4 linked regions of the Homo sapiens genome follow. The main gene of each other region encodes a partner of the protein of the gene in region 3 in a complex. Each region holds a gene or a part of one and is shown on either strand. Other genes may lie near its edges. The genes, in order: DRC7, DRC12, FBXL13 and DRC1.

Region 1 (7,023 bases), on a different chromosome or scaffold from region 3:
CTGGCTGGGCGGGTCTCACCTCTTGGAGTTGCACATGTAAAGGGGGGATGCAGGGCCACTGACCCTTCCTCTTCTTTTGGGTGACAGACCATCAAGAAGGAGGAAAAGGTGCTGCCTAAGAAGTATACCATCAAACCCCCCAGGGACCTGTGCAGCAGGTTTGAGCAGGAGCAAGAGGTGAAGAAGCAGCAGGAGATCAGAGCCCAGGAGAAGAAGCGGCTGAGGGAGGAGGAGGAGCGCCTCATGGTGGGTCCTCAGCCCTGAATCCCCTGGGCTCAGCTATCGAGAAAGGACTGCTAGGGATGGGAAAAGAGGCATAGGTCATGGAGGGGATGTGTGTATGGACCCCCCAACTAGGTCCACCTCACAATCACCCCCAACCTCTACCTGGCCCTGCAGGAATCTCCCACTGGTGGTCAGCCAGCTTCTCATGATGGACTCCTAACATCAGGGCACTGTACTGCCTGGGGCAGCCCATTCTATGCTAGGCAGCTCTGGTGTCCTCTTTGCTCTAGACTCTTACTGGGGATATACCTGCATACACCCTCCCATCCATTCATCCTCCCATCTCTCCTCCCATCCATCCTCCCATCTCCCCTCCCATCCATCCTCCCATTCGCCAATCCATCCATCCATCCATCCTCCCATCCATCCTCTGATCTCTCCTCCCATTCATCCTCCCATCTGTCCATCTCCCATCCATCCATCCTCCTACCCAACCTTCCATCCATCCATCCTCCCATCCACCCATCCTCCCATCCATCTGTCCTCCCACCCACCTCCCATCCATCCATCCTCCCAACCATCCATTCTCCCATCTCTCCTCCCATCCATCCTTCCATCCATCCATCCTCCCACCCATCCTCCCATCCATCCATCTTCCCATCCATCCATCCATCCTCCCATTTATCCTCCCATCCATCATCCTCCCATCCATCCATCCTCCCATCCACCCTCTGATCTCTCCTCCCATCCATCCTCCCATCCATCCATCCTCCCATCCATCCATCCTCCCATTTCTCCTCCCATCCATCCTCCCATCCATCCATCCTCCCATCTATCCACCCTCCTACCCACTTATTCTCCCATCCATCCATCATCCCACTCATCCTCCCATCCATCCATCCATTCTCCCATCCATCCTCTCATCCATCCATCCTCCCATCCATCCTTCCATCCATCCATCCTCCCACCATCCTCCCATCCATCCATCCTCCCACCATCCTCCCATCCATCCATCCTCCCATCCACCCATCCTCCCATCCATCCATCCTCCCATTTTGCCTCCCATCCATCCATCCTCCCATCCATCCATCCTCTCATCCATGCTTCCATCCATCCATTCTCCCATCTTCCCATCCACCCATCTTCCCATCCACCCATCCTCCCATCCTCTCATCCATCTATCCTCCCATCCACCCATCCTCCCATCCATCCATCCTCCCACCCACCCTCCCATCCGTCCATCCTCCCAACTATCCATCCTCCCATCCATTCTCCCATCCATCCTCCCACCATCCTCTGATCCAGCCATCCTTCCTTCCATTTCTCCTCCAACCCATCCTCCCATCTGTCCATCCTCCCATCCATCCACCCTCCTACCCACTGTTCTCCCATCCATCCATTGTCCCACTCATCCTCCCATCCATCCATCCTCCCATTTCTCCTCCCATCCATCCATCCTCCCATCCATCCGTCCTCTCATCCATGCTTCCATCCATCCATCCTCCCACCCTCCCATCCACCCATCCACCCATCCTCCCATCCTCCCATCCATCCATCCTCCCATCCACCCATCCTCCCATCCGTCCATCCTCCCACCCACCCCCCCATCCGTCCATCCTCCCATCCATTCTCCCATCCATCCTCTCACCATCCTCCGATCCATCCATCCTTCCTTCCATTTCTCCTCCAACCCATCCTCCCATCCGTCCATCCTCCCATCCATCCACCCTCCTACCCACTGTTCTCCCATCCATCCATTGTCTCACTCATCCTCCCATCCATCCATCCTCCCATCCACCCATCCTCCCATCCATCCATCCTCCCATCCACCCATCCTCCCATCCATCCATCCTCCCCTCTCTCCTCCCATGCATCCTCCTATCCATTTTTCCTGCCATCAGTCCTCTCATCCATCCTGCCAGCCATCCTCCTACCCATCTCCCATCTCTTCTTCCAACTCCACACTCCTATCCTTCCTCCAATCCTCTTTCCCCACTCCCTTCTTTCCTTTCCTTCCATAGAGTATTCCTTGAGCTTCTTTTCTGGTCCAGACCTATTTATACATAACAATGAACAACAAGACAGTCACAGTTCTCTCAGAGGGAGGCAGATAAGAAAGGTACTTGGTCTCCCATTTCCTTTCTGTGGATGAAACCTCACCCAAAGTCATAACATATAAAGCCGGTAACCCCCAGATGCCCAGTGCCCCAAAGAGTCCGATTTGTAAACCACAGATCTAGTCAGACTCTCCCATTGTTTTGATTTTACAAATGGGCTCAGTGGTTGGGTGATGGGAGGGGAGATGGGCCGTCACACTCCGGTTGATGGTGCAGTCTACATCAGAACTCAGCTCTCCTGCTGGTTCCCCAGCCCCAGGGAGATGTCTGGGCCCCTGACACTCCTCTTCCAGCCATCTGACTCGTAGTCACCCACCTTTCCTTGGCAGGAAGCGGAGAAGGCAAAGCCGGATGCCCTGCACGGCCTGCGGGTGCACTCCTGGGTCCTTGTGCTATCGGGGAAGCGCGAGGTGCCTGAGAACTTCTTCATCGACCCATTCACAGGACATAGCTACAGCACCCAGGATGAGCACTTCCTGGGCATCGAAAGCCTGTGGAACCACAAGAACTACTGGATCAACATGCAGGATTGCTGGAACTGCTGCAAGGTGCCTAGGGAGGGGGAGCTGGGTGGGTGTGGCAGGCACAGTGCAGGTGATAGGAATAGAGGGAAGCAATGGCAGCCAGACCTTGGGGAGAGCGAGACACCAGGCCACGAGGGCTTTGAACCTTCTCCATAGCTGCGTCTCCATGGCCCACTCCCTTGCCCATGAATAACCATTCTGATACGATTATTGTCTCTCCTGATTTGTGTATCCTTCTAAAGTGTGGATTGTTTGAATGCATTTTTTAAAAACTCTATATTGAAGTGTAACCTACATGCAGAAAAGTACACTCATCCCATGCATACATACAGTTCAGTGAAATCCCACAAATTTAACACACCTTGGTTTCCTACACCCAGACCAAGAAATAGAATATTGCCCAAACCCCACAAAGTCCCTTTGCACAATTACTATCTTCCTCCAAATGTATTTTTAACTCACGTATGTGGCACTGGTACACACACGCGCCTACAAGAGGGTACAGAGGAGGTCACAATCCTAAGTGTACATACCATTGAATTATCACACACTGAACACACCTGTGTAGCCAGGACCATTAGAAGCCCCCTCATGTCTCCTCCTGGCCACCAACCCTACCATCGTCCCCAGAGTTAAGCACTATCTTGACTTCTAACGACATCCATTAGTTTCATCTGTTTTTGGAGTTTACATCAGTTGAATCACACAGTGATTCAATACTCTTACTCTTGGATTCCTTCACTCATTATGTTTATGAAATTCATTGTGGTTTTTTGTGTGGTTTGTTCATTTTCATTTTTTATTACTTTCCATTATTTGAATACACCAGAACTTATTTGTCCTTTCTACAGTTGCACATTGAGACTGTGTCCAGTTTGGGACTATTTTGAATAATGCCGCCATGAATATTTGTATACATATATTTCAGTGAACACATACACACATTTCTGTTGGGTAACTACTGAGGGGTGGAATCGCTGAGTCACAGGGTGGGCACATACTCAGTTTTAGTAGATACTGCCCGATTTCTCAAGTGATTGCATCCATTTACACTCCCACCAGCAATGTATGAGGGTTCTCAGAGCTCCATCCACATCCTTGCCAATACTGGATACTTTCTTTTCCATTTTAGCTATTGTAGTGGACATGTAATGGTATTGCACTGTGGTTTTATTTAATGCAATTGATTTTTGGCTGAGTGTGGGGGCTCACACCTGTAATCCCAGCACTTTGGGAGGCTGAGGAGGGTGGATCATTTGAAGTCAGGAATTCAAGACCAGCCTGGCCAACATGGTGAAACCCCGTCTCTACTAAAAATACAAAAAATAGCCAAGTGTGGTGGTGGGCACCTGTAATCCCAGCTACTTGGGAGGCTGAGGCAGAAGAATTGCTTGAATCTGGGAGGCGGAGGTTGTAGTGAGCCTATATTGCGTCACTGCACTCCAGCCTGGGCGACAAAGCAAGACTCTGTCTCAAAAAAAAAAAAAAAAAGCAATTGCTTTTTGCAAACTGTTCACATATCCAGTAAGTTTTAAACCTGCTTATTCATTTTAAAAATTAATCTGTAAAGACTTTGGGGTTTTCTGCATATACAATCAGTTCTATAGCTGAATGATGGCCGTTTTGTTTCTTCATTTTTAATCCTTATACTTTTTCATTTCTTTTTCTTGTTTTATTTCTCTGGTTAGTACATCCAGTATAATGTCAAATTGAAGTGGGGATTCTGAACATCCTTGTCTCAGTCCTGATTCACAAGTAACGCCTTAGTATCATAACATTTCACTATTTGTGTGATGTTTATCTTGACTGTAGGGTTTTTATAGCTAGCTACCCTTTATTTAACTAAGGGATTTCTTTCTCAGTTCACTAGCAGGTTTTTTTTTAATCAAACAAAATTTGTTTATATCAAATGTTTTTTTCATCTATTAAATGATCATAATTTTTTCTTCTATTAAGTGGTAAATTAGACTGATTGTGTTCCCCCCTTTTTAAAATTGAGGTGTAATTGACATAACATAAATCCACTAAAGTGCACAAGTTAGTGGCTTTTAGTATATTTACAAGATTGTGCAACTATCACCACTATCTAATTCCAGAATTTTTTCATCACCCCAAAAGAAGATTTTTATTTTTGAGACAGGGTCTTCCTTTGTTGACCAGGCTGGAGTGCAGTGATGCAATCACGGCTCACTGCAACCTCTGGACTCAAGCAATTCTTCCACCTCAGCCTCCCGAGTAGCTGGGACTACAGACTGCAGGCATGTGCCACTATGCCCAGCTAATTTTTGTATTTTTTATAGAGACAAAAAATGGGTTTTGCAATGTTGCCCAGGTTGGTCTCAAGCAAGCCACCCACCTTGGCCTCCAAAAGTGCTGGGATTACAGGCTTGAACCACTGTCCCGGGCCCCAAAAAGAAGATTGTGGTTGAGATTATACTGGATCCATAGATCAATTGAGAGAGAACCGTTTTCTTAACAATATTGAATTTTTCACCCATGAACCATGGTATCTCTCTTCAGTTATTTAAGTCTTTTAAAATTTCTATCAGCAACATTTTGTAGGTTTCAGTGTACAGTTCTTGCACATCTTTTGTCAGATTTATTCCTAAATATTTCGCTTTTTGATGCTATGATTTTTTTAAATTTCACCTTCTGACTATTCTTTGTTAGTGAATAGAAATGCAGTTGATTTTTACATATTGATCTTCTATCCTGAAATCTTCCCAAATTCACTTATTTGCCCTAATAGCCTTTGCGTGGATTCCATCAATGTTTATACAGATAATTATGTTATCTGTGAATAAAAACAGTTTTACTTCTTTTCCCATCTGGATGCTTTTCTTCCCTTATCACACTGGCTGGAATCATCAGTAAATGTTAAACAGAAGTGATGAAAGCAAACCTGTTTATTCCTGATCTTACGGAGAGCATTTAGTCTGATACCATTAAGTATAGTATTAGCCACAGGTTTCTCTTATTGGTTCCCATTATCAAATAAAGGAAGTTTTTCTCCAGTCCTAGTTTGCTGAGAGTTTTTTCAGAAATAGATGCTAGATTTTTGTCAAATACTTTTTCTGAGTCTATTGAGATTATTATGATTTTTCTTTTTTAGTTTATCTACATGGTAAGTTACTTGGATTGATTTTGAATGTTAGACTAACCATGGTTTTCCTGGGATAAACCTCATTTCATTGTGATGGTTAAATCTTTTATATATTATTGGTGTTGAACTGAAAATTTTGCTTAGAATTTCTGTATCTTTGTTGAAGAGAGATATTGTTCTGTAGTTTTCTTAGAATATATTTGCCAGGTTTTGGTATCACAGTAATGCTGGCCTCATGGAATGAGTTGGGAAGTTTCCCTTTTCTTCAGTTTTCTGGATGAGTTTCTGTAGAATTGGCATGATTTCCTTTGTACGTTTGCTGGACTTCACAAGTGAAGCCATCTGGGGCTGGAATTTTCTTTGTGGAAGGATTTTAAGGTACAAATTCAATAGGAAGACTCAAGCTGTTTTTGAGTGAGGTTTGGTGTTTGTATCTTTCAAGAAATTTGTCCATTTCATTTGTTTTCAAATTTATTGTTATGAAAGTGTTCAAAATAGCTCCTTATTTTCCTTCTAATATGTTAAAGTCTTTAGTGACATTACCCCATTCATTCTTAATATTGGTAGTTTGTGTGTTCTCTCTTTTGCTCCTGATCAATCTGGTTAGAGGTTTATCAATTTTGTTGCTCTTGATGCAGGGGCAGGCCCCAAAATCAGGGCTTTGCCAGTGAGGATTCGTGGCTTTTTCCAGGAAAGAATTCAAGGGCAAGCTGGTGGTGTTAGAGGCAACTTTACTTGAAGTGGCAGCGTACGGCAGCAGCAGATGGACTGCTCCTTGTGGAGCAGGGCTACCCCATAGGCAGTGTGCCCAGATTGTAACCACCCAAGGGGTTCACCTTGCCAGCTGCCTAGACAGAGCTGATTCAAGACTGGGGAATTGCAATAGAGAAAGAGTAATTCACGCAGAGCAGGCTGTGTAGGAGACCAGAGTTTTGTTATTACTCAAATCAGTCTCCCAGAGCATTCGTGCATTCAGGGAGCAGAGTTTTTAGGGACAACTTGGTGGGTTGGGGGATGCCAGGGAACCAGGAGTGCTGATTGGTCAGAGATGAAA
Region 2 (7,790 bases), on a different chromosome or scaffold from region 3:
CGGGGTTTTGCCATTTGGCCAGGCTGTTCCTGGACTCCTGACCTCAGGTGATCCGCCCGCCTTGGCCTCCCAAAGTGCTGGGATTACAGGCCTGAGCCACCGCGCCTGGAGCCTCTTCTTTACTTACAGCAGAGATTTTTGGTATCCCGAACCCTCTGCTGCAGTCCTCAGTGGTGGAGGGTCAGCGAAAGTGGGGAAAGTGATCCAAGAGCCCAGACGGCAGCTTTCTGGAGCAGAGACTTTGAAGTCTACCCCTTCATGCTGGCCCTTGCTGCAACTCTTGGAGAGAAGGGGCTTGGAGGGTGGGGAAACCTACCTAGCTGCCCCCGAAGGCCTTTGACTTCTTCCTCCAGCTGCTTGCTGCGGGTTTGCATATCCTCCTGCAGGGCATGGCACTGGCGACTCATCTCTGGGGTGGGGGCAGTGGGCCACCAGGGACCCAGGTTGGAGATGGAGGGATGGAGAAAGGAAATGAAGTTGTGGGTGGGGAAGACTCTACTTGGTCTAGTGGAACAGGAGCACAAAGGCCTTCTTGGTTCTTTTTGTGATTCTGAGAAGCTGCAGACCATGAAAACCTGAGGAAGGGACAGGAAGCCCGACCTACCTCCCCCAGTCCAGCTTTGGATGGGGATGCTAGCCCTTCTCCCCGCCCATGGGCTGATTGAGATGATGGCTATGACTGCATGTGTATCCTACACAGCATCAAGCACATGGCACCAGGCATCCTGGAAGGCCCCTGCCTGGGATCCCAGGAACCTACCTGCCTTTGGTTCCTGCAGGATCCTTCCTGATTTGTACTGTTTGGGAAAGACCAAGACCAGGCCTGGCAGTCGGAAGCCCTCCTTGTTTCCCTTCCTTGCATCAACTGACCCTGTTGGTTGTCCTCCTCCAAGCCCCTGTCTCCTGCCCACCTGCTTAACCGACCACACACCTGCATATATGGCCTTCCCTTCACTTCGGGCCCCTTCCAGCTCAGCCTCCACCCCTTGCAGCCTCTGCCTCAGCTGGTCTTCGGAAGCCTTGGCTCGACGGGCTTCATCCCTCCGTAGAGCTGTGAGCAGTCCCAGAGCCGCCGTCAGGACTGGCTGGGTCCCACTAAATCAGCCCCCATGAACGTGATGGACTTTGCCCACCTCTAGAAATCTGGTGGTGGGGTGTCCAGCCTCTTACTCTCTCTCTGGGTTTTGTTGTTTTTGTTTTTTATCCCTAGAGTCTCACAGGCTCCTCATTATTAAGAAGTAAAAACTCCCTCTATGTTCTTTTCGGATAGCCTGGCATGGTGGCTCATGCCTGTAATCCCAATATTTTGGGAGGCTTAGGTGGGAGAATTGCTTGAGGCCAGGAGTTTGAGACCTGCCTGGGCAACAGAGTGAGACCTTGTCTCTATAAAATAAATAGGGCCAGGCGCGGTGGCTCACGCCTGTAATCCCAGCACTTCGGGAGGCCAAGGCTGGTGGGACACAAGGTCAAGAGTTCGAGACCAGCCTGGCCAACATGGTGAAAACCCGTCTCTACTAAGAATACAAAAATTAGCCAGGTGTGGTGGCCACGTGCCTGTAATCCCAGCTACTCGGGAGGCTGAGGCAGGAGAATCGCTTGAACCTGGGAGGCAGAGGTTGCAGTGAGCCGAGATCACACCACTGCACTCCAGCCTGGGCGACAGAGCACAAGACTCTGTCTCAAAAAAAAAAAAAAAAAAAAAAAAAAAAAATAAATAAATAAAGTAGCCAGGCATGGTGGTGTGCACCTGTAATACCAGCTACTCGGGAGGCTGAGGCGGGAAGATTGTTGCGGCCCAGGAGTTAGAGATTACAGTGGACTATGACCATACCACTGCACTCCAGCCCGGGCAATAGAGCAAAATTCTGTCAAAAAAACCAAAAAAAACAAAAAACAAACAAACAAAAAAAACACCTTCCTTTATCAACTCTCACTGCCCACCCTCTCTCATCATCTTTTTCCACTAGGGGATGGTTAGGGTCAACTTAACCCCCCACCATACCTCCAACTCTCCAATCCCCCAGGATACAGAAATGCCCCATTTCACTTCCCCTGTTGCCCACCCATGCCAGCTTCTACCCTCCTTACCCAAGTGGTCTCGGAGCAGCTCCTTCTCCAGCACCACCAGCCTGTGCCTGGACTCGGCCACCACATCTGCACCTGCGGTGGCAAGTGGCAGAGCCTCAGCTCTTCATGATCTCAGCATTCCTCACTCTGCTCACATCCTCACCCCACACCCTGCACTTTTGCCACAGCAGACCTGAGGACCACTAAATGAGGTATCCACAGTGGCAGAGTCTACTGAAGTCAGCACCGTGTCCTCACCGACCAGCACATAACAGATATGCAAAATACACATGACAAATATATTAGGAAGGCACAGAGCTAGATGGGGCTTAAAGGAGAGCGTGGGTGACCATTTCCCCACTTCCTCAGCTCCCTGGATCTGGCTGTGAGGACATGAAAGAGGTAGGTCAAGAGAGCTCCATCCTGTCCTGCAGAAGGCTGAATTCTCTCTGGAGGAGCTCTGCGTGGTCTTCATGGCAGAACATGGAGAAGCAGGGGGCACCTCCACCCACCATGACTCACCCCAGTTCTTTTTCTTCTTCTGTGCCCCAGATTTCTTCCCTTTTTCTTTGTTTTTAGGTGGCATCTCCTTGCTGTCCTGGGAGAAGGAGGGGACCTTATGTTTAGGTCTGGACACAGGGATGCTTTCCTGAGCTTTAGACTGAACCAGGAGACTCTCCTGAGTCCAAATTTGTCTCTCATATCCTTCAGAAAAGTCAGTTCACAGTCTCTTTGGAACCTCAGACAGGGTTGGGGTCAGTGGGGAGGATGGAGTTTTTTCTCTCAACCAGGCTGACTCTGTACAGAAGTCATTCCTTGCAACTCTCTTTTAGAGAAACGAAATCCCTGTACCTGCTCCCCTCCCTCTTCCCATCATCCTCAACCCTCACTTCCTACCTGTAGGATCCTCTCCTGCCAGCGTTGGGGCTCCCCGTGGAGTGACCCACTCGTGGGGAGTGGCAGAGAGAAGGCCCAACTAGCGAGGAGCCTGAGGCGGGGCCTGGGTCCTGGGAGCCAATCCTTGGTGGCAAATTTCTCTTGAGGGCAGGACTGAGGGCTGGAAGGTTGGGTTTCCAGAGGCTGTATGTTGTCCAGGCAACTGGGAAACATGGAGTTCACAGGAAGGTGGAATGGGCTAAATCAGCTCACAAAGTTTAAAATATCAAGGTCTCAAAGGGTCAGTTCTTTCCTTATCCCAAAATCCTAAGTATAGTTTGAAAAGAAAGGGCTTTGGAGGTCGATTAGTTATGATTCATTGCCATGTAGACATGGCCTGCAATTTGGAGACTTCCAAATTCAGATGTACACATCTGAGATAATATGTGGTGCTGATACAGAGGAAAAGGACTGACAGTAGCCATGTTGGACAACTGACATCCCGAGGTCCCACCAGCAAAATGACATTAGTAGGCTTAAAACTGAAGATCTAAGCTGGGGCGGTGGCTCGTGCCTATAATCCCAGCATTTTGAGAAGCTGAGGCAGGAGGATTACTTGAGGCCAGGAGTTCGAGACCAGCCTGGACAACACAGTGAGACCTCATTTCTACAAAAAAATTAAAAAATTAGCCTGGTGTGGTGGTGCACACCTGTAGTCTCAGCTACTTGGGAGGCTGAAGCAGGAGAATCACTTGAGCCTGGGAGGTTGAGGCAGCAGTGAGCTATGATTGCACCACTGCACTCCAGCCTGGATGACAGAGGGAGACCCTGTCTCAAACAAACAAAACTCCCAGACCACCGAAGATCCTCTTCAGTACACTGTAGAATGAGGGTAATAAGTGCAGGAATAGGTAGTCCAGGGAGTTTCCCACTTCAGAGAAATGAGACGCAGAGGAATAGTGGACCCATGGACTCTAGGGTACTGACCTAGAGGGATGCAAGTGTGGAGGAAAGAGCTCAGGTTAGAGACAAGACATGTGAGTTTGAGTCCCAACTGTGGATATGTAAACTGAGGCGAGCCATTTGACTTTGCTCAGCATCAGTTTCCTGATCTTTAATTGTTTGATTTTGCAGCTCTTGAAAAGCCTGTGTTTTAGCTGCGTGTTTACATGGCTATCTTCTCTCCTAGTGACTTAATCTATTGCTACATTTCCCCATTCCCTTGTGTGGTTGATTTTCAGACAGGTGTTGAGACATTGCTTTGTGAGGCTCCCTGTAGCATAGAGTTGGTTGGGGCTCCCTCTAGTGGACTTGTTTGACCTTCTCCTGAGTTTCCTACATTTTTGCTTTTAAATTATTTACTGGGCAACAGTGGGGGTGACTCCCTTTGGGGATACTTCTTAGCGTCCTGTTTGAGCCAGGAGTGGCTGGAAGAATTAACATTGGGGAGAGAGTATGATGGGTGGCCCTCCCTTGTCAGGCAGCCCTCACTTTCCCTCCAGCTCTGTGCTATCCTGGAGGCTTGCCATTTATCTGCCACTTGGATCTCTGGGCACCATACTGGTTAGAGTGAAAATAGCAAAAACTTCAGGACTTTTCTCCTTTTGGATTAGGGGACCTGCAGACCCTTTCTTTTCTTTAGGTTTCTTTTTTTTTTTCCCGTGTCTCTCTCTGTCACCTAGGCTGGAGTGCGGTGGCATGATCACGGCTCACTACAGCCTCAGTCTCCCTGGGCTCTGGTGATCTTCCCACCTCAACTTCCTGAGTAGCTGGGACTACAGGCGCATGCCACCACACCTGGCCAATTTTTGTATTTTTTGTAGAGATGGGGTTTTACCATGTTGTCCAGCATGGTCTCAAACTCCTGGCCTCAAGCGATCCACCTGCCTTGGCCTCCCAAGGTTCTTGGATTACAGGCGTGAGCCACTGCACCAGCCTATCTTTTTTTTTTTTTTTCTTCAGACAGAGTCTCGCTCTTGTTGCCCAGGCTGGAGTACAGTGACGTGATCTCGGCTCACTGCAACCTCCACCTCCCAGGTTCAAGCAATTCTCTGCCTCAGCCTCCCAAGTAGCTGGGAATACAGGTGCCCACCACCACGCCTGGCTAATTTTTGTATTTTTAGTAGAGATGGGGGTTCACCATCTTGGCCAGGCTGGTCTTGAACTCCTGACCTCGTGATCCACCCGCCTTAGCCTCCCAAAGTGCTGGGATTACAGGCGCGAGCCACTGTGCCCGGCCTTCTTTAGGTACTTCTCTTCATCTCTGTCACCCTCAATATTTTTGGTCCATTGCCTATTGTCAGGAGCAGATCTGTAGAAATAGCCACAAGAGGCTGGGCGCGGTGACTCACGTCTGTAATCCCAGCACTTTGGGAGGCTGAGGCAGGCAGATCATGAGGTCAGGAGTTCGAGACCAGCCTGGCCAACATTATTAAACCCTGTCTCTACTAAAAAATACAAAAATTAGCTGGGCATGGTGGCACGTGCCTATAATCCCAGCTACTGGGGAGGCTGAGGCAGCAGAATCGCTTGAACCCAGGAGGAGGAGGTTGCAGTAAACAGAGATTGCGCCACTGCACTTCAGCCTGGGCAGCAGAGCAAGACTCCATCTCAAAAAAAAAAAAAAAAGCCACAAGATCTGGAATTGAAAAGTCCTTCTTCTGGGTAGTGGGTAACTTTAGGCAGAGGCTGGTTCATGCTTGTCACCTTGGTGGCTGCACGGCACTTACATGAACTTCCGGGCATTTTACAGAGCAAAGAGAAGAGCCAGTCTTGACTTCCCAAGTGCTTCCAGCTCCTGTAACTCAGAGTCAACTAATCTTGTGGACATCTCCCAAATCTGGAGGATATTTTTCTTCTAATCTTTTATTTATTTATTTTTGAAGCCAGTGGAATTTAGTAGTGGGCGCCTGTATACCAACTTTAGTGACTATAAACCAAAAATAAAATTCTAAGCCTGCCAGCCATCTGAGTGGACCCCTCCTCTAGGCCAAGGGCTTTCCAAAGTGAACCTGAAGAACTAGTTCAGGCCGTGATGGGAAGGGGGAGCCGGACATGCCTCAACATACCCTCCTCCCTTTTAGAATTACTGATAGAACACACTCTTTAAATCTGATAAGAAACATTTACAGGCCTGGTGGCTCATGCCTGTAATTTCAGCACTTTGGGAGGCTGAGGCGGGCAGATCATTTGAGGCCAGAAGGTTGAGACCAGCCTGGGCAATGTGGTGAAACCCCATCTACACAAAAAATACAAAAGTTAGCCCAGTTTGGTGGTGTGCATATGTAGTCCCAGCTACTTGGGAGGCGGAGGTGGGAGGATCACCTGAGCCTGGGAAGGTTGAGGTTGCAGTGAGCCATGATCACGTGACTGCACTCCAGTCTGGGAAATGCAGTGGCACCCTGTCTCAAAAAATAAAAAGAGAAAAGATAAGAAGAAAAAACATTTACAATCAATTCTCTCTGAGGCCTGCTACCTGGACGCTTCATCTACATGATAAAACCTTGGTCTCTTGCCGGGCACGGTGGCTCACTCCTGTAATCCCAACACTTTGGGAGGCCAAGGCAGGTGGATTCACCTGAGGTCAGGAGTTTGAGACCAGCCTGCCCAACGTGGCGAAACCCTGTCTCTACTAAAAATACAAAAAATTAGCCGGGTGTGGAGGCGGGTGCCTGTAATCCCAGCTACTTTGGAGGCTGAGGCAGGAGAATCGCTTGAACCCGGGAGGTGGAGGTTGTGGTGAGCCGAGATTGCGCCACTGCACTCCAGCCTGGGCAACAAGAGCAAAACTCTGTCAAAAAAACAAAAACAAAAACAAAAAACCCTTGGTCTCTGCAACCCCTTATTGTAACCCAGACATTCCTTTCTATTGATTCCAGGTCTTTAGATAATAACTCTTTCAAGCAATTGTCAATTGGAAAATCTTTGAATCCACGTATGACCTGGAACCCTAACTCTAACCCTAATTCTCTTGCCCGCTTCTTCGCTTCCAGTTGTCCTGCCTTTCTAGACTGAACCAATGTACATCTTACATATATTGATTGATGTCTTATGTTTTCTTAAAATTTATATATAAAGCAAGCCGGTGCAGTGGCTCACGCCTGTCATCCCAGCACTTTGGGAGGCCAAGGCAGGTGGATCACCTGAGGTCAGGAGTTCAAGACCAGCCTAGCCAACATGGTGAAACCCTGTCTCTACTAAAAATGCAAAAAATTAGCCAAGCATTGTGGTGGGCGCCCATAATCCCAGCTACTTGGAAGGCTGAGGCAGTAGAATCTCTTGAACCCGGGAGGCGGAGGTTGCAGTGAGCCGAGATCGCGCCATTGCACTCCAGCCTGGGCAACAAGAGTGAAATTCCGTCTGAAAAAAAAATGTATAAAGCCAAATTGTAGCTTGTTCACCTTCGGCACTTGTTCTCAGGATGTCTTGAGAGTTGTGTCACGGGCCATTGGTCACTCATATTTGGCTCAGAATAAATCTCTTCAAATATTTTACAGAGTTTGACTCTTTTCTTTGACATGACACTAATGTTAATAAGTTCTGATAACCCAGTACCATCAGACCAGCTTCTTCTAATCTTGAGCATGTTTTTCATTTATTCTCCCTCCACCACCTCCTTCTCCTGTGCTGTAATGCAGTGGGGGTACCTGTCCCTGTCCTCCTCATCTAGAAGCCTGTTTGGGAGGTTTTTCTTTCTTTCTTTTTTTTCTTTTTGAGACAGAGTCTCGCTCTGTGGCCCAGGCTGGAGTGCAGTGGCGCGATCTCGGCTTACTGCAGCCTCAATCTCCTTGGCTCAGGTGATCCTCCCACCTCAGCATGGTGGGACTACAGACGCACACACTGCTCCC
Region 3 (7,023 bases):
TGATGATCTCTAATCCCTTACCTATGCTCACTATCTAATCAGGGCCAGTGTGGCTCCCTCAACTGCAGAGGCTTTGATTTGTCTGGGTGAAACAGAACCTTTGGCAGGTGGGATAAGAGAGATTTTTCTGGCTTGGGAAGAAGCTCAATGTCTTTGAATCACAAAGCAATGCTCTCCACATGCTTGATTCCATTTTGAACATGAAAACAATGTATGATGCAGCCCTTAAGGTCCAATTACAGCCGTCAGAAGAGGCTGTTTTATACATAAATTCACTCATACTCAATGGAATCTGAAACTACTGCACCAGCTTTGCAAATCAAAGATGTCTGCTCAGCTCACCCTTTCTGAACCAGAGGAGTAGCAAACTTTTGGTCAATGAGCAAATTGGCTGTAGCCCTTTTGCAGGAGAGTTTCCTGCAGAAGATATGGCTGGCATTCTACCAACCCCAGAGTCTGAAGGGTTTCCAGGAAGTGACCCCAGAAGCACCGTGTGGATGCAAGATAAAGGCTCCTTTATTTCAAGGAGGAATAAGTAACAACTATGATCAGAAAACGACAAGCTATTTGTATTTGAAGCAGCTGTGACAGCCAGCCATTCAACTTATGGCCCTCTGTGGGGAAAGGCAACAAGGTAGGAGTGAGAGAGAGGAAGAAAGACCCTCACAATGGCCCCCACAACCCAGGAGGGCCTGAACCACAGAGAACCTGAAGAATCACTAATTGTATAGTTAGCGAAAAGGCTAATCCAAGAACAGAAAACCAAATAACGCATGTTCTCACTTATAAGTGGGAGCTAAATGATGACAACACATGGACAGATGGATGGGAACAACACACACTGGGGCCTGTCAGAGGGTGGAGGGTGGGAGGAGGGAGAGAATCAGGAAGAATAACTAATAGATACTGGGCTTAATACCTGGGTGATGGAATGATCTGTGCAGCAAAACACCATGGCACACGTTTACCTATGTCACAAACCTGTACATCTTGTACATGTACTCCTGAACCTAAAATAAAAGTTGGAAATAAATTTTTTAAAAAAATAAAGGGAACTTTTGATATATTTCTATCTGGAGCCCAAAACCTTCAATTCTAGAGAACTAGTAGAGAAAGTCTTAGTGGCCTTCAGAGCCCCAAATCACAGTATGAAATTCCTGGAAGGCCTTCTTTAGCAGTTGCTAGAAGCTTAAACTCGGACAGTCCCTACTGCTCAGGCATTCTAGGAGATCTGTGTTGATAAAAAATAAAACTCTTATCAGAGTTCTCCTCTCTAGCTCATGGAAAGGTTCAAGCCTTTCTGATGTGGAGCTGTTGACTTTTATTATCAGTATGAACAAATAATGTTATTTAACAATTATTATTTGCCACGTACTGTGCTAAATCCTATTTTACAGATATTGCCTCACAAATACACTTTATCATCAAAATGGATAAGGAAACTGGTTTAAACAGGTTAAATAATGTGCCCACAGCCACACAAATAAGGAGAGCCATACTTTGTACCTAGGTCTTAATCATACTGTGCTGCTCTTCGCCTTTATATTACATTCTCAAGCTTTTAAAAAGCTCTGACATTCAAGGGATGTGGTCAGTAAGGGTAGACACGTGCTCTGTTTTGCCTAATTTATGTCTGATGCACAATAAGAGAGGCTGTGGATTATGAGCAGTCCTTGGTGGTGGCTCCAACATTCCCTTTTTTTGCCTACTCAAGAGATTAGAAGGAAATGTGAGCTAAGGCACACAGTGTTACTACAGGGCTAACCCTGAATCCCTTTTAATTTATAAGAAACAAAAATCACTAACAAACTTCAGTACAGTGTTATTATTAACCATCTAATGTGAAATGTTACAACTATGACATATCATGTTTGAAAATCACTGTTCTATACTGATCCAAAGAAACCTCTCACCAGGATAAATGAGTAACCATTGCAGCAGATTGGTTCAATTCCCAAATCATTTCATACGGGGTCTCACAGTCACTTAGGCCAAAGCAGAATGGAATGCAGTCAAAGAATTCCATATGTGCTCTATGGAATTTAGAACACACAGTGGTTCCTAAGAATACATGTTTTTTTCAATATTTCCTAGCTCCCATGTGCTGATCACACTACAGCATCAAGCTATTAAGAGAGAAAGGGGAGGGGCAGGAGAGAGAGAGAGGTTTCTCCCAGAAATATAGTTTCTACATTTTTAACTTTCCTGATACGATTCAAAATACATGTGTAAGAGCTTCTGCACAGCAAAAGAAACTATCAACAGAGTAAAGATAATGGGAGAAAAATATTATCAAATTATGCATCCGACAAAGGTCTAATATCCAGAATCTAGAACTTAAACAAATCAACAAGCAAAAACCAAATAAGCCCATTAAAAAGTGGGCAAAAACATGAACGGACACCTCTCAAAAGAAGACATACAAGTGGCCAACAAAAATATGAAAAAATGCTCAACATCACTAATCATCAGAGAAATGCAAAATTACCATCACAATGAAGTATCATCTCGCACCAATCAGAATGGCTATTATTAAAAAGTCAAAAAATAAAAGATGCTGGTGAGGATGTGGAAAAAAGGGAATGCTTTTACACTGTGGTGGGAATGTAAATTAGGTCAGCCAAAATAGAAAGCAGTATAAAAACTTCTCAAAGAACTAAAATAGAATTACCATTTCATCCAGTAATCCCACTACTGGGTATCTACCCAAAGGAAAAGAAATAATTCTATCAAAAAGACACCTGCAGTTGTATGTTTATTGCAGCATCATTCACAATAGCAAAGTCATGGGATCAACCTAAGTGCCTGTCAGTGGTGGATTGGATAAAGAAAATGTGGTACATTCAGACCATGGGATGCTACACAGTCATAAAAAATAATGAAATCATGTCCTTTGCAGCAACATGGATGCGGCTGGAGGCCATTATCCTAAGTGAATTAACAGAGAAACAGAAAACCAAATACTGCATGTTCTCACTTAAAAGTAGGAGCTAACCACTTGGACATAAAGATGGAAACAATAAACACTGGGAACTCCAAATGTGGGGAGGCAGGGAGGATGGCGAGGGTTAACAAAGTACCTACTGGGCATTATGTTCACTATTTGGCTGATGGGTTCAATAGCAGCCCAAACCCCAGCATTATGTAATATACCCACATAACAAACCTGCACGTGTACACCCTGAATCTAAATTTTTTTTTAAAGGTGCGTGTGTGCAAACACACAGCTACATAGGATGCTATGATAAAGAACTCAGAAAAACCTTCTGGCAGCCACTTGCCGATCTCTTCTCTTGGCAAGGTCCTGGGTCTTAGGTTAGTCAGTCCGTGTGAGGATGCCAAAGGTGGTGAGGACAGCTAGTCACGGCTAAGGATTTTCTGAAGGGCAGGAAAGAAGTGGAATAGGGAATAGTCTATACTAGTATCCATAGCTCTCTAAAAATAATCCTAGATTTGCTCCAGGACAGATTCATATTTTCTGTTTTTCCCTAGGACCACCCTTGCTGTGAAAGCACTTCAGACTAAAACAGGCCCTAAAGACATACCAGGTGGAGGAAGCCTTAACCTCCCAGAACTTGAGTCTGGAAGGAGAGTGGGTCTGAGATCTGATCCTTTGCTCCCCTCCAGTCAGTAAGCATCACTTCCAATAGTCAGGGACCCACTGATGTTTGGTTTCACTAAAGCTGTCTGTGGGTGGACTGGAGAGCAGAGCTAGGGTAAGGGGGACAGGGACTAAGGAATGAGGACATTAAAGAAATGCATATACCAGTGGGCACTTCACCCATGGCTGGGGTTCAACATGCAGCTCATTTCGATTCTGTCCCATCACACTGCATTAAATGAGTAGTCTCCCTGTTCACTCACTGTTTTCCTTATCTTATATTAAGGAGTCAGCATTCTCACTTTCCTTTTTCTTGTTATTTTCTCAAACCCCCACTACTTGCTAATTGTTTTATGTCACAATTACCATCTAATTTACCCTGGCTTGTAGCTGACTGAGCAACCATAGGACTCAATATTTACACTTTCCCAGACTTATCATTAGTAGTACTTATCCTCTTACCAGTTATCTAGAGCCGTCAAAACTGTTGCTCTTCTGACATTAAGGTAAGATGTAACTTGGTGAATGAGGATTTGCAAATCTTTTACTCCCTAAAACAAGCATTTCCTTTTCCTATAGGTCAAGATCATTGTTGCCTCTAACTGTGCTACTCTTGTACTACAGTCAACATCAGTGGCATTGAATGATTATGAACAACTGTGAACTGCAGTGTGTGTCCAGAACTCTGGTGTTTGGGAGGCAGGGGGCAGGAGGGTGTTGGAAATAGGAACATAAGAATGCCCCTTCTAGACCAGCAATCCAGCAGAAGCCAAGAGGGTTAAAGGACTTCCCTTCTTGGTGTAAGCTGCTGAAATCTCTCGTTTGAGCTATTCATGATGAGTTTCAGGGAGATGCAAAGAAATGTAATAAACTCTTAAGTAACTTACTACCTTCTTAAACAAAAGGAAAATAACAAAGTTTAAAATTATAAATAATTAATGCCCTGAAGCTATGTAATAGAAAGAAATTAATTCTATGATCAACTTCCTGTAGATGTTTAGAGGAGGAGAAGACTGGGTTTGAGCCATTTCCAAGGAGGCTGGATTGGTTTGGAGTTTTGAAAAATGGATAATGTTTAGACTGATAGAGATGGGTGAAGGGTAATGATGGAGCCTTGCTGTTTGTTACATGAAACTGATGGTGCTAATGTTATATGCCTCAACATTTGGTATTATATTTCAGTAAGTCTTAAGGGGAAAAATGTTCAGAAAATGTGTTGAAAGATATGATAATCTCACCTTTATAGAATTGAAAAGGGAGAAATATCATTAGGAGAATAATGTGGGAAAAGCAAAAGATATAAACCCACTACTTTTGCATAGTAATGTTCTACTTTGAGGATATGTAAAGATTATATAAGAGGTTTAAAATGCAGGCTAGCACCTTAAAAAAAGATTTAAAAAATTAACAGAATGCAAAACATTATCTTTGACAATAAACTTACCATTTTCAAAACTGAGAATAAATATTTCTCTGAAGAGAATAAACTTGTTTGCCAAGTTTTAGTCCATAGGGATTGGTGGCTCCAAACTAGGAATTAGTATATGATAATTGCTTTTACTCAATTTGTTCTTTAAGTTTGTAGAAGTTTTGTGTGAGAGCCAATAATAAGCTAAAAAGCAATGTGCTTAGAGGCAGAATTAGGAATGCTTTGGTTACCTCCCTGTTAAGTTTGGTTACAATTATTTTAATACATCTAAAGTTTGATTTAACTGAAATAGCATTTTAAACTGTTATCTCTATGTTGTTGGTTTTTTTTCTTCCTATTTCATTGCCTTACCTGAACTCATATGGCCATTCAGCACAAACTTAACTCGAAGTGTATGGTAATGCCAGCTCCATATCAATGACTCAGTTTCCAGACTTTTGCAATTAATAACTCAAGGTAACATACGGCAAGAGTGGGGAAGGTAGTGCCTTCATGGGTAAACATCATAGTTACTCATTTCTAATCGTACAGAAGTGGTCAATTACTCATCTCCTCTTTAGTACTAATCTCGTGATTCAAACCAACTTTCTAGGAAAGGAAATTCTTCCTTCTGTCCTCAAAATGGCTTTGTTTTCAAGTTAGACCTACTTTTTTTCTGATGCATTCTTTACTTTCTTGTTTCCTGCTAAGAAAGACTATAACAGTATTTTTTAATACTGTGTTATAGTGTTGTGACACCTTTGAGTCACAAACCTTCTCATAAAAATGTGTATTATAGACAAAACTGCATGAACTTTCAGGGAGTTCATGGACCTCCCTGAAGTTCATCCATGTAGTCAAAAGGGATCTGTGAACTCTGGGTTAAGAGCTCCTGGCCTGGTGCATGGTCAGCCTTCACAGGTAGGCTGGTTAGGTTACTCCCTCATCAGAGAAACTAGAAATACCAAGGAAGGGGCTTACTTAAAGCAGTATAAATAAATAGAGGCCTCAGTGTTCCTCTTCCATGGCCATGTGTAGTTTCCTTACCCATTCACTGTATCTGTTAATTTCTGAACTGGCTGAATCAGAGTTACTGAGGCTTTGGGACCCTGTTTATTTGTACACTTACCCATATCCTCACTCTCAGCAAGGCAAGAGAGGTCTCATGTGAATTCAGATTGTGACAGTGAATTCCCTAACTCCAAATTTGGTTGAGTTTGAAAATTTTGCACTAGGGGTTACTTCTGCAACTAGCTAATGCTAAGCACTGTTATTACAGGAAGGCAGCTCAAAGAATGTCATCTAAAGTTCAGCAGCAGGAATACAACACTAATGACCCTCCACGTTGGTTTGGCTATGATAGGGAAGGAAACCCTGTTACAGAGCTTGACAACATAACATCATCTAAAGGAGCCTTAGAATTAACAGTGAAAAAGTCAACATACAGCAGTGAAGACCAAGCAGCGTGACCTTCAGCCTCAAGCAGGAAGAACAAAAAATCAAGAACTTGGCAAGTTTTCTCCATTTGTTGCAAGTATGTTTACTAGCTGAATCTCAATAACAATGTAAACAAGCAACAAACCATCTTCTGATTCTTATTCCAACTACAAATATTTCCAAACACATCAGTAGTTCTTCTGTCTAAATAATCATGATTTAAAAAAGAAGCCAGGCCAGGAGCGGTGGCTCACACCTGTAATCCTAGCACTTTGGTAGGCCAAGGCGGGTGGACCATAAGTCAGGAGTTCAAGACCAGCCTGGCCAACATGGTGAAACCCCATCTTTACTAAAAATACAAAAATTAGCCGGGTGTGGTGGTGGGCGCCTGTAATCCCAGCTACTCAGGAGGCTGAGGCAGGGGACTTGCTTGAACCTGAGAGGCGGAGGTTGCAGTGAGCCTAGATCACGTCACTGCATTCCAGCCTCGGCGACAGAGCAAGACTCCGTCTCAAAAAAAAAAAAAAAAAAAAGAAGCCAAATCAAGTACTGACTACACAAAATTTCTGCCTAAATT
Region 4 (7,023 bases), on a different chromosome or scaffold from region 3:
TTCCAGTGCCATTTCCTCCCAAAACCCTCTGACATGCCAAATGGAAACGGCCACTTCCTCCTCTGAACAATGGTGCACCTTGAATGTGCTTTGACCATTACTCTGATCACAAGGCAGTGCCCCCACAGTGCTTACACATGGCAGCCTTCAGTGCATGTCTGCTGAATGAATGATGAGTGAAAAAAGCACAGATCACCACTATGCCCTATTGCTTTCCTGACTGTCCAGCGATTGGTTGCCCCAGCCCGCCTTCAGATAGCCCTGTCCTTAGTCCCCGCATCTTGCCCAGCAGACTCTTCTCCACTCACTGGCTCTGCCTGGCTCCCCAGCCCATCCAGCTCCCCTGGTTCTGGTCTCAGGCAAGCCTTCCAGCCCCGCAGCCCACCTAGGCTTCTTCAGACCCATGACGAAGGCCTCCAGAATCTTGAGGACATCATTGGGGTGGATGACCCAGGGGGAGGGTGGGGTCTCCTCCTCTTCCTCCTTCTCCCCTTCCACCAGGCTTTCTTCCTTTTCTCCCTCCATCTCCGTCTGCTCTGCCAGCTCCAATTCTGACCTCGTGCTTGTCTCCTCCATGCTCGCCTTCTCCATGCTCGCCTGACTGCAGGGCTTGATCTGGAGAAAGATGCACGGACAACTGTGGGCTGGGGACACACGAGCATGAGCATGGAGAGAGAGGCAGGAAGAAGAAAAACCAGAAAAGTTTACAGAAAGTGACAGCTTGCCCAGGGAGACATTTACACAGGGACAGAAACAGGAGAAAGAGTGGGAAGAAGGGGGATGGGATGGGGAGAGGCACTAGGAGGCTACGAGAAAATGGAAAGGTTCTGTTTCTAAATCCGGGCTCCTAGGTGCTCACCTTACTGACATTCATAAAGCTTACATGTTAGAAATCTTCTTTTGAATCATAATACAGATTAAATTTTTGCTTTAATTGTTAAATTTAAAAGGTCTTCCTCCTACTCCTATTTTGCAGTTCATGCAATTGACCTCCCACAGGCAAACGAATGCTATCAAGTTTCCTATGGTTCCTTCCAAGGAAATAGTATGTCTATATAATGTTTATATATAAATACATGCGCATACCTTTCCATATATACTCCTCCTTCTCGTTTTGACATCAATGATACTATACTACAAATAGAGTTCTGTAGTTTGCTTTTACACTTACCAATAAACCTTAGGTACCTTTTCATGTGAATACATAAAGAACTTTGGTTTTTTCCCACAGTTTTATAGTACCCCATCGTGTAGACATACCATATATTATTAAATAGATTCCTCAACAATGGACATATAGGTTGTTTCGAATCTTCTGCCATTTCAAACAATGTACAGTGAATCAGCTACAATAAATACACCATTTCAACTGTAATGAGATATATTTAGAGAATAAAATCCTAGAAGAAGAATTTCAGAGGCCAAGGTGGGCAGATCATTTGAGGTCAGGAGTTCGAGAGCAGCCTGGCCAACATGGTGAAACCACATCTCTACTAAAAATACAAAAATTAGCCGGGCGTGGTGGCAGGTGCCTGTAATCAATCCCAGCTACTCAGGAGGCTGAGGCAGGAGAATGGCTTGAACCTGGGAGATGGAGGTTGTAGTGAGCCGAGATCGTGCCACTGCACTCCAGCCTGGGCAACAGAGTGAGACTCTGTCTCAAAAAAAAGAAGAAGAATTTCAGAGTAAAATGTATATAGTTTTGTAATTGATACTGCCAAACTGTCCTCAATGGAGGTTACAATTTATACTCCTACCAGTAACTTATGAGTGTGCCTGTTTTCTACACCTCAGTCATCGCTATGTTATACTTGCTGTGTTATCAAGCTTTTTTTTTTTTTGCGCCAACATAACAGGTTGGCAAAATGGAAATCAGCCATTTTAATTTGCATTTCTCTTATTACAAGGAAGGCTGATTGTCTTTTCATATGTTTAAGAGTTACCTGTATTGCCTCTTCTAGGAGTTGTTCATTCATATTTGTTATCTGTTCCTTTTGTTGGTCTTTTTCTTATTGATTTCAGAGAGCTCTTTATATATTAAGGAAATGCCTTAACTATGATATGAGTTGAAAATATTTCTCTGCAGCTTGTCATTCATCTCTTAACTTTGCTTATCATGATTTTTGCACTACAGAATTGTTTTTAAATTCTGTAGTCAAATATAGCTTTTATTCCCTTTATGGCTTTGTGGTTTTGTCCATTTCTGCCAGCTCTTTTTTTCTTTTCTCTTTTTTTTCCCTTAGAGACAGTGTCTCACACTCTGTCACCCAGGCTGAAATGCAGTGGTGAAATCATGGCTCACTGCAGCCTCAACCTCATCATGGCTCACTGCAGCCTCAACCTTCTGGGCTAAACTGAGCCTCCCAAGTAGCTGGAACTATAGGCATGAGCCACTGTGCCTAGCCCAGCCAACTCTTTTTACAGGCATGTCAGGATACTCAGCTTTGGGCTAGCAGTACTAAAAACATTTTTCATTCACATTTTTCATTTTTAAATTAAAATGTTATATGACTTTTAATATGGCATCTTCTTTAAAATAGTTAATATTTGATTCACCTTCTGAAATCAATTACAATCAAGATATGTAGGACAAATGGGCCTTGCCTTGCGGGAAAGTGTTAAGGATCAAAATATTCAGAACCTGGTGGGCTCTGGTCTCACAGTGGCTGAGACCTGGTTTTGAGGGAGGGTGCAGGAAAAGATTGCTTGGGCCTCAGTATAAGAACAGCATCTCACCCCCAAGCCATTCTTCCCTTTACAAAGAGACAAATTGATAAACAATAAGGGAAATGCTAAGTTAGCTATACCTGACATAAAAGCCCCGCTATTTCTCCAGAAGTGCTACTCAAAGACAGCACTGTGCTCTGGGGGCTTCGGGACAATTGAAAATGCAGGGACATGGATGAAGCTGGAAACCATCATTCCCAGCAAACGATCACAAGATCAGAAAACCAAACACCGCATGTTCTCACTCATAAATGGGAGTTGAACAATGAGAACACATGGACACAGGGAGGGAAACATAACACACCGGGGCCTGTCGGGGGGTGGGGGCTAGGGGAGGGATAACATTAGGAGAAATACCTAATGTAGGTGATGGGTTGATGGGTGCAGCAAACCACCAGAGCACATGTATACCTATGTAACAAACCTGCATGTTCTGCACATGTAACCCAGAACTTAAAGTATAATAAAATAAATAAATAAATAAGAAAGAAAGAAAATGCTTTCTTCTCTCTGCACCTTGCCTTACCTGGAGGCTGGAAGATAAACGGTGAGCTCGATATTTAAGGAAGAAGTTCACCAGTTTATACAAGTCATCCTCACTTTCAATTCCAAGGGCCTGGGGCGAAAAACAGGATGGTTGCTCAAACACCCCATCAAGAGGCCACGGGCTTGGGCAGCTGACAGATGCTCAGCTCCTAAGAGCGGGAGGCTTGGCTTGTGGAGGGCATTCATCCAACGCTGGGAAGCGACTGTGAACTTGGGGACACACACATCAGAACACACGGAAACAATGCTCATAGAGCCAGGAGCTGCTCCATATGGATCCCATGGCTGTGAGGATGCCTAGTGGGGCTGCACCAGATTTGAGTTTGGGGGTGTCAGGGAGAACCTACAACCTGAGAGGAAGATGCTAGTAGAGGAAGAGGCAGGGGTGGGAGACACTGCAGTGAGTCTGAGACCAATGTGTTGTGTGGAGAGTAGGTTAAGGGAAGGATGTGACAGGGAGCAGGGGAAGCCCCGGGAGACCCTCGTCCACTGCCAGGGTTGAGGCAATGGCAGGGCCATCTGAGAACACGGCCGGCTGCAGCCCCACCCGTGTCCTCCCAGCCCCGTTGGACTCACGGAGAAGATGGCATCCAGCCTCAGCAGATAGCATTCATTCTGCTCCAGGGGCAGGAGAAGGCTCAGCAGCTTGCTCTCTATGAGGAACCCCTGGGGAGAAGGAAGAAGGCATCTCCTGTCGGGGACAGGTTTCAGGAGCGAGTCCCAGGGTCTGCAGCTGCCCCCTGTGTAACACTCCAGGGACCATGCCACGGAGCAGACGCCCAGGGATGGGAGCCAGCAGTGGGCCCCAGCAAAGCCTTCTTGGGGTGCCCATGAACGCCCCCCTCCCCAGGGAGCAAGGCCAGAGACAAGCAAGGCCAGGGACAAAGCCCATCCTCACCACAGACTTAGCTTTTCCCACCCAGAAGGGCACCAACCCACCTCACCCACAAGCCACTAGGCAAACTCCTGAGGCCCCCACCACAGTCCAAAGCTGACCCAGTCACAGGCTCCTGCTTCACCCATAGTCTTGTCCCCAAATATCTACAGAACACAGCAGCAGGACAGGGAGGCATGGAAAGCAGTGGGCACCCCAAACCAAAACACAGCACACATGCGGTGGAAGGGAGAGGGCGGCTGAGCAGATGCGGTGCCCGCTCTGAGCTGGGATGCCTGGGGGAGAGCTCCATGGGGAGGTGGCCTCTGCATCCAGCTGCAGGTTCAGAGGGCAGAACCTGCCACCTGACCCCTTCAGCAGCAGCTGCCCTCAGTGGCAAGAGCCAGCCAAAGGCAACTGCCCTCACTATCCTAAAAGAATACCCACTTCAGAACCGTAAGATCCAAACAAACACTGCCCATGTTTGACCACAACCCAACCTCCAGCTGAACCAGCTCAATGCAGCTTTTATTCTAAGGCTAATCATGTTTGCTAACATACAATGCAGACATCCAAATCCCAACATAGCCAGAGTCACCCCCAAAACAAGCCCCTGAGAAGGGCCATGTCAGTGTGGCCACATCACTTAGCAAGTTGGTTCATGGAGGTGAGCTGGTGCAACTTCTGTCTCAGAAGCAGCATCATTTTAAGCTGGCAGGAGCCCTCCAGCTGGCCTAAACTATGCCATGCTGGCCAACCAAGGTTAGACCCATTTTCCAGCTGGGCCAGCTCAGAGGCAAGGCCTCTATGAACCGGCCCTGAAGTCCAGGGGCCATCCTGACTCTGCTCCTCAGGGCCCAACCCTGGGCTTGGCCAGGGGAGGACTGGCCCACTCCTGACTCCAGGCTAGCACTGGCCCAGCAGAGGCCTCAGAACCTGCACACCCCCGTGAGTCCCTCTGCTGCAGCCCCCGCCTGGCCTCACCGACTCGTCACACAGGAGCATCAGGATCCTCTTGGTAGTTTTTTCAGAAATTTGCTTCGGCAAATCCAGGTAGGACTCTGGTTCCGCGGCGGCCTCTTCTGCCTCCTCCTCTTCTGCAGTTGGGTCATGGGGAGGAGAGAGAAAGAAAAAGAAGATAATTTCTGGAGCTAGTTGACTCTGAGAAACAGTCAGATGGCTTTCCTTGAGAAAATGTACCTCTTAAAAAGCCTCTGTGAGGCATTCTCTCAGTCTCTTTATGATGAAAAAAGCCTATTACGTGGCGGGAAGGCGGGCTAGGGGGTCGGAATCAGAGACTACCTGGAGAACTCGGCCATTCCCAGCCAGCCTGTAATGCCCTACTTTTCCAAATTGCGTCTACCTGGAAACATCATACTCAAAATCCAGCCATGAACCAGGAAGTGGGAGGGAGAGTGTGAGCCCATTTATTCTTATTTCAGAGATGATCTAGCAAGTGGCTATATAGTCTCTAAACCTGCAACAGATTAGACAGAAGCAGCCAACTCAAAGCAGGGGCAGGTGGCTTTGCACATTCACAGATAATTTTTTTTTTTTTTTTTTGAGATGGAGTCTTGCTCTGTCACCCAGGCTGGAGTGCAGTGGTGTGATCTCAGCTCACTGCAACCTCCGCCTCCTGGGTTCAAGTGATTCTCCTCCCTCAGCCTCCCAAGTAGCTGGGATTACAGACACCCACCGCGACACCTGGCTAATTTCTGTGTTTTTCGTAGAGATGGGGTTTTGCCACATTGGCCAGGCTGGTCTCGAACTCCTGAACTCAAGTGATCTGCCTGCCTCGGCCTCCCAAAGTGCTGAGATTACAGGCATGAGCCACGGCGCCTGGTCCAGAGAAATATTAACAGCAAGAACTGACAGCTGACAGCAAGAGCCAAAAATTTTCTTAATTAAAATTAACTTCTTAGGCCAGGCGTGGTGGCTCATGCCTGTAATCCCAGCACTTTGGGAGGCTGAGGCAGGTGGATCACTTGAGGTCAGGAGTTTGAGACCAGCCTGGCCAACATGGCAAAACCCCGTCTCTACTAAAAATACAAAAATTAGCTGGGCATGGTGGCACGCACCTGTAATCCCAGCTACTCAGGAGGCTGAGGCAGGAGAATCGCTTGAACCCAGGAGGTGGAGGTTGCAGTGAGCCAAGACTGCACCACTGCACTCCAGCCTGGGCAACAGAGTGAGACTGTCTCAAAAAGACAAAAATAAAACAAACGAACAAAAAACATAATTAAATTGTAAAAAACCATTCCCTAATAATCAAAAGCAAAACGAAACAAAAATACCTATATGTGTATCAAGCTGGTGATATAACCACACAGAAACTATTCCAAGTGCATTTATTTTTATTTATTTGTTTATTTATTGAGACAGAGTCTCGCTCTGTCACCCAGGCTGCAGTGCAGTGGCATAATCTCGGCTGACTGCAACCTCCACCTCCCGGGTTCAAGTGATTCTCCTGCCTCAGCCTCCTGAGTAGCTGGAATTACAGCCGCGCGCCACCATGCCCGGCTAATTTTTGTATTTTTAGTAGAGACAGGGTTTCACCATGTTGGTCAGGCTGGTCTCAAACTCCTGACCTCATGATCCGCCCATCTTGGCCTCCCAAAGTGCTGGGATGACAGGCATGAGCCACCGCACCCGGCCTATTTTTATTTTTTTTTTAATTTTTATTATTTTTTATTTTTTTGAGAAAGAGGCTCACTCTGTTGCTCATCCTGGAGTGCAGTGGTGCAATCTTGGCTCACTACAACCTCCACCTCCCGGGTTCAAGCGATTCTCCTGCCTCAGCCTCCTGAGTAGCTGGGATTACAGGCGCACGCCATGACCGGCTAATTTTTTGTATTTTTAGTAGAGACAGGTTTTCG

Evidence for each region.
Region 1: FBXL13 (region 3) and DRC7 share a complex: the UniProt entries of both Homo sapiens proteins name them as parts of the nexin-dynein regulatory complex.
Region 2: FBXL13 (region 3) and DRC12 share a complex: the UniProt entries of both Homo sapiens proteins name them as parts of the nexin-dynein regulatory complex.
Region 4: FBXL13 (region 3) and DRC1 share a complex: the UniProt entries of both Homo sapiens proteins name them as parts of the nexin-dynein regulatory complex.

The regions. Positions count from the first base shown.
Region 1 is NC_000016.10:57,704,789-57,711,811, forward strand, and holds part of DRC7 (dynein regulatory complex subunit 7), read left to right. Parts: intron 1-87; coding exon 88-246; intron 247-2,671; coding exon 2,672-2,890; intron 2,891-7,023. UniProt on the Homo sapiens protein: Component of the nexin-dynein regulatory complex (N-DRC) a key regulator of ciliary/flagellar motility which maintains the alignment and integrity of the distal axoneme and regulates microtubule sliding in motile axonemes.
Region 2 is NC_000011.10:119,192,835-119,200,624, forward strand, and holds the start of DRC12 (dynein regulatory complex protein 12), read right to left. Parts: upstream 3,008-7,790; 5' UTR 2,965-3,007; intron 2,666-2,964; 5' UTR 2,654-2,665; coding exon 2,590-2,653; intron 2,161-2,589; coding exon 2,089-2,160; intron 1,052-2,088; coding exon 932-1,051; intron 410-931; coding exon 317-409; intron 1-316. UniProt on the Homo sapiens protein: Component of the nexin-dynein regulatory complex (N-DRC), a key regulator of ciliary/flagellar motility which maintains the alignment and integrity of the distal axoneme and regulates microtubule sliding in motile axonemes.
Region 3 is NC_000007.14:102,812,797-102,819,819, reverse strand, and holds part of FBXL13 (F-box and leucine-rich repeat protein 13), read left to right. Parts: intron 1-3,492; coding exon of another isoform or gene 3,493-3,634; exon of another isoform or gene 3,635-4,169; intron 4,170-4,180; coding exon of another isoform or gene 4,181-4,244; exon of another isoform or gene 4,245-5,403; coding exon of another isoform or gene 5,404-5,431; exon of another isoform or gene 5,432-6,288; coding exon 6,289-6,478; 3' UTR 6,479-7,023. UniProt on the Homo sapiens protein: Substrate-recognition component of the SCF (SKP1-CUL1-F-box protein)-type E3 ubiquitin ligase complex.
Region 4 is NC_000002.12:26,446,912-26,453,934, reverse strand, and holds part of DRC1 (dynein regulatory complex protein 1), read right to left. Parts: intron 5,245-7,023; coding exon 5,132-5,244; intron 3,940-5,131; coding exon 3,850-3,939; intron 3,344-3,849; coding exon 3,254-3,343; intron 616-3,253; coding exon 386-615; intron 1-385. UniProt on the Homo sapiens protein: Component of the nexin-dynein regulatory complex (N-DRC) a key regulator of ciliary/flagellar motility which maintains the alignment and integrity of the distal axoneme and regulates microtubule sliding in motile axonemes.